Regions from separate parts of the Homo sapiens genome. Here region 2 is linked to region 1. Evidence: fine-mapped expression QTL. A gene starts in region 1. The other region holds a variant in brackets. All regions are shown on one strand. Distances are from middle to middle. Region 1 holds the start of TMEM156 (transmembrane protein 156). Region 2 has its middle 80 kb from the start of TMEM156.

Region 1 (2,928 bases):
ACAATATCTTAAAAATAGATTATCTTTATTCTAACTATTCTCTTTATAACACATTTTCACCCAGTGGAATCAAGCACTGAAAATATGTGCTATGATTGCTTCATCTAAGTAACATAATGCCAGAAAACCAAATTGTAGTCATAGTGTTTATTTAGCAAAAATATTTTTAACTCGCTACTTAGCATCATGTAAATGCAACATCAAATAATCACTGAAATATGTCATCAAATATAATTAGCAAAAATATTTTTATCTGGCTATTTAGCATTACATATATGCAACAATAAATATTCATTGCAGCAAATAATCAAATATGAGTTTTTCTCTGATTTTAATCAAATTCATATAAAGACTATTTAATGATAGAATACAGCCTTTTCTTTTCACCTTTTCTTCTTATTAAATGCTAGGGAGCACAATTACCATTTGAACCTCACATTAATAAATTTTCAAGTCCTTTGCTAACATCAAAATAGTTTAAATTTATACCTATTTATTTTCCTAATCTAGGTTTCAGCAATTATATCACAATTTTCTGAAACGTTCACAAAGTTAATTTTGTTCCATTTTTCTCCAGTTACAAATACATACACATACATCTGTTTAAATTTCCACTCACCTTATTTTGATTGTATTTTCAAAATATATAAACGCTTTTTCTTGTCAAAAGGTGACGGTAAGTTATCTGTGTGAAATAGTTGTAGTAAAGGGAATTCTAGCATTTTTAACACAATAAATATCACTTTCTTCATTAAAGAATTCCAAAATGTAAAAAGCATACTTAAAGCTGCTTTGGGCCAGGCACAGTGGCACAAGCCTGTAATCTCAGCATTTTGGGAGGCCGAGGTGGGTGGATCACAAGGTCAGGAGTTCAAGACCAGTTTGGCCAACATGGTGAAACCGTGTCTCTACTAAAAATACAAAAATTAGCCAGGCATGGTGGTGGGCGCCTGTAATCCCAGCTACTCGGAGGCTGAGGCAGGAGAATTGCTTGAATCCGGCAGGCAGAGGTTGCAGTGAGCCAAGATTAGGCCATTGCACTCCAGCCTGAGCGACAGAGACTCCATCTCAAAAAAAAAAAATAAAAAATAAAAAAATAAAAAAAAACTGCTTTGAAGAAAGTGTTTCAAAGAGCAAAATCATGATGCAATTATTGTAATCTCAATGTCTGAAATCTAGACTACAGATTTTAAATATTTTCATTTTTAGGTATGCTATGATAATTAAGTACTATGAATTAGGTTACTGTACTATATAACAGTCAACTAAAATTGCAATCTTGTTTTATTAGTTTTTCAGATCTAGAACTTCAGCCTATGCAGCATGTGTCCAAAAAGAGGATCTTTTCTGTAACCACTAGCTGACACTAATTTTTTTAAATTAAGAAAGGAAAGCTAGATTACAATTATATACTCACCTTTCGGTGTCTTGAAATATTCCGGCAAAATTAAAATGAATGTGATCACTATTGCCACAAATAATTTAAGGAGGGCTGTTTTTGTCATGTCTCTTCACATGACACAAATGTGTTCCCTTGCAGTACATTCATGGTATGTTGCTTCCTGCTTTAAGTTTATCTCTGCAGCACTTTAGGTTAATGCAGTTCACCTCATACTCACTTCCTTTTGAGTAAGACTTAAAAAAAAAAAAAGGTCTTGAACTGAGACTTCACTTTTGAGTCACTTCCCATTAAAAAAAAAAACTACCCCCCAAATAAGCACTTTCAGACCATTTATTTGTCTTTCTAAGCAAGAAAGGTAAATAAATGATCTCAAGAAGCAAGGGGATCTTCTCCCCACCCAATTTATAAATATAAACCCACAGTATACTCACAAAAATAAAACGGTGGGCTGGGCGAAGTGGCTCACATCTGTAATCCCAGCACTTTGGGAGGCCAAGGCAGAAGGATCACTTGAGTTCAGGAGTTTGAGTCCAGACTGGTCAATAGAGCAAGCCCTCCTCTCTACAAAAATAATTTTAATATAGCTAGGTGTGGTGGTGCACTCCTGTAGTCCCAGCTACTCAGGAAGCTGAGGATCACTTGAACCCAGAAATTTGAGACTGCAGTGAGCCATGACAGGCCACTGCACTCCAGCCTGGGTGACAGAGTGAGATCCCTTCTCAAGAGAGAAAGAAATAAAAGGGTGAATGTCAGTCATGTCTAGGTTGCATGCACATGACTCATTCATTTACTTATTAAATGATTGTCGATCCTGTTTGGTGCCAGGTGCTGTGCTGAATTCTGGTGTTCAGAAAATAGTACATCTAGAAGATAGAAACATTTTAACCATTGCCAATTTAAAAGGAAAAAAAAGTATTGTTTAATTTGCATTTGTTTGGTTGACAGTAATTCTAAAGATTTTTAATATTTGCTGGCAATTTGAATTTCTTTTGTTAATTGCATGTTCATGTCTTTTATTGCAGCATTTATATCCTTCCTGTTGATCTATAAGACTTTTTTCTCTATTGGGAATATGAAATCTTTGCATATGTTTTGCAAACATTTTTCCCAGGTTGTCATTTGCCTTTTCATTTTGTATATGGTGGGAGTTTTTCCACCCAACTATTTTGTAACAGAGTATAAAACACGTACCTAAAAGTTTTATGCAGAGAAACACAGTTCTTCATTGTATTTCTAATATTACACGAAATAATGTATAGTTTATCAATTTAATCATTTATTCTTTTGTTTTTGTTTTTTGTTTTTTGAAACGGAGTCTCAATCTGTCTCCAGGCTGGAGTGCAGTGGTGCAATCTTGGCTCACTGCAACCTCTGCCTCCCAGATCCAAGTGATCCTCCTGCCTCAGCCTCCTGAGTAGCTGAGACTACAGGCATGCACCACCACGCCCAGCTAATGTTTTGTATTTTTAGTAGAGACGGGGTTTCACCATGTTAGCCAGGATGGTCTCGATCTATTGACCTCGTGA
Region 2 (2,928 bases), 80 kb before region 1:
TTCTCATTGAAAAATATGATCGCCTTTCGACATTTCTGCAGGAGAGCTCTAGTCAACTCTCCTTGGGAAAAAAATTCCACTGGTAGGAAGTGATAAAGGACAAGAACCCAAATGATGAACTGCAGGACAGAAAGACCCCGGCCATTTCTCTGTCAGAAAAAATCATTTGTTCCCACAGGGTATCTTGATCAGGAAGGCTTCTCCCCCAGACATCCGCGCGGCTTCCTCCCTCGCTTCTTGAAGGTGTTTATTCAAAAACCACCTTCTAAATAAACCACCTTTCCCACCTTCGTATTTTTTTCTCTTCAGGACATACCACTGTCTAACATCCTTTATATCCTACCGATTTTTCTGTTATCTGCCTTGCACGAGGATGTAGATTCCAGGAAAGGAGGGATTTTTCTGTGTTCTGTTTGTTACCATATTCCTAACACCCACAGCAGTGCTTGGCAAATAGTCGGTGCTCAATAATGATTTGTTGAATTAACAAATAGGTCAAAGTCTTCTGTGTATAATCTGTAAACGCTGAATGAGAGAACGGAAATAGCTGTACTATAGGGTAATTTGTGGGAAAATATCTGGTTGAGTTACATTAGGAAATGTTAACTGTGAAGTAATGGTGCTCATTTTAATGGTATTTGGTGGTATAGCATTAATGATTATGATTGGGGAGCTTAGAAATGAGTAAGCTTTTTCCCAGTAAAATTAATACGATGTACTCTTTTTTTACTTTGAAGAATTTGCTGTTTGAGGGGTCTTTCAAGATTCTTCAGGGTAAGGTAGACTGCAGTGAAAATTCAGAAGCCCTGAAGAAGTTAATGGTGGTGCACAAATACTCTGGAATATTATGCAACAGTAAAAACAAATGAAAAGAATGGAATAGATCCCTGTAGTGACAGCTCCAAGATGTGTAATTGAGTGAAAAAAAAAAGAAGCTGTAGTATGATATTTGTCTACAATAACATCTTTGTACACACACACACACACACACACACACACCCCTAGAAGATCCGGAAGGATACACATGAAACTGTTAACATTGCTTATAACCAGAAGTGAAAGGGGGTGCCATAGGTGGGGGAAAACATCAGAATTTCACAATAATCAAAAGGGACTGCAATGTTATTTGCAATAATTATGTTTGTATAATGAAATATATTAATGGAATACTTATGTAACTAAATTTTTAGAAATCAAAACAGGAAGCAAAAGAAATTGCTTCTGATCAGGGAGGTAAGAGGATAGGGCCCTGCCAGAGACAG[A/G]AAGTGTAAAAACACACAGATTGTTTTTCACTAGAAGAGCCAGAAGTGTCCATGAGAGTGTCTAAATGATTTGAATTTATTTGTCATCGATGTGCCTGTAAGTTTCTAACACAAAGTTGATGACTCTACACATCTCTCCTTGCTTTCCTCAGAAAAGCCCAAACCAAGTACTTCAAATGCATAATTTGTAAAGATTGTGATGATGTACACAGAAAAATTTGTCATTTCCATCTCATTGAAAAAGGCCTCTCACTTCCTTAGCCAGATCGTCTCTCTAATCCTCAGACTAAAACTGAACAGCTCTGGGATACATAATGACTACAGAAGCAATTTCAGAAACTTCTGGAGGGAAGCATCACACAAATGAATGATTCTGTGGTTCAGAATTATTAGCTTGATGCCCAGATGCATATCGTATTTGCAAGAGGCAGTTTACAATCTGCTCAGCTTAACAAATGCAGCACAAGGGGATTTAAATCCCTGCATTTGCAATTTCTGTCTCTCCCTCTCCAAATTTATGGTGAAATTATAGACACCAGTAATGTGTCAGGGCTGAGTGAACTGAGGTCTCTGCTCTGCTCTCACAGCTCCATTTCACTCAAAGGAGAGTAATAAATGGAAAGCAACAAAAAAGTCTCAGCAGATAATGAATCTGTGTCCTAATGACCTTCCCAAACTACAAAATGGATTCATAATTTACCTGATATTGCCCAAACCATTCGGTGCCTGTTGTGAGGTGTTAAGATATTTTGGACATTTTAGACCACAAATGTGCATTTTAAGCAGTTCCTCAATGATTCAAGAAGGCTCCGAACTACCTTTCCCTGTCAAGGTACAATTTTCCATCAATGACAGCGGAAGGCATGTTTCCACCCTTCCCTGTTTGCTGCCTTGATAGTGATGTGATCGATTACTAAGGAGTCTTGGTCTGTTCTGCAGACCCTGGGACTACAGTGTGGCCATTTGTATAAGATACGGGTGTTACAAGCCAATGCGTGGTATCACACATCTGTCTCTATTTTAAAACCACTTGGTCTCCGGCAAGGATTGCAGAGTGGAGGCTCACATTTATTCAAGGGAAGTCATGTGCAAAATAATATGTTTGCTTGCTGAACAGGTCTGTCACTTGCTGGTCATCTCCATCTGAGTTTGCTGCAAAGGAAGCAGTTGATCGGCCACTACTAGGGCATCAATACCAAATAGGAATAACACATATGAAATGGTCTGAAATTAGTAGGCTTTAGAAATGAAAAGCAGCTAGGCACAGTGGCTCACGCCTATAGCCCCAATACTGTGGGAGGCTGAGACGAGAGGATCGCTGGAGCCCAGCAGTTCGAGGCTGCAGTAAGCTATGATCGTACCACTGAATTCCAGCCTGGGGAACAGAGGGAAACCCTATTTCTAAAATTAAAAAAAAAAGGCTCACAGATTTTTAAAGATCTTTGTGTATTGCATCCAAATGTTGCCTTTTTTTCCATGCCAGAGCTAAAATGGAAATAAGTCATGAGATAAAGTAAAAGAGAACATCTACTGATTTTCATGAACTCATACTTTTTATTCATTTAATCACCTCTCTATCCTTATGTTCATCCAGTCAGTCCACAAACATTTATTACAATTGTTGTACACTTTCCCAAGTAAAATAAGGTTCAATTTGAAATTTACT

Evidence for each region. PIP is the estimated chance that this variant, and not a neighbour inherited with it, causes the effect.
Region 2: its variant is the best candidate, but not a certain one, in a credible set for the expression of TMEM156 in whole blood (TOPMed, PIP 0.60).

What each region holds. Positions count from the first base shown.
Region 1 is chr4:39,030,809-39,033,736 of GRCh38, forward strand. It overlaps TMEM156 (transmembrane protein 156), which reads right to left and starts at 1,601. Exons shown (of 7, transcript NM_024943.3): 1 at 1,418-1,601. The coding sequence starts at 1,505.
Region 2 is chr4:38,950,458-38,953,385 of GRCh38, forward strand. No RefSeq gene overlaps it. Among named protein-coding and RNA genes, the nearest start is that of TMEM156, 80 kb to the right of the region's middle. The variant A/G (reference allele first, on the strand shown) is at 1,263.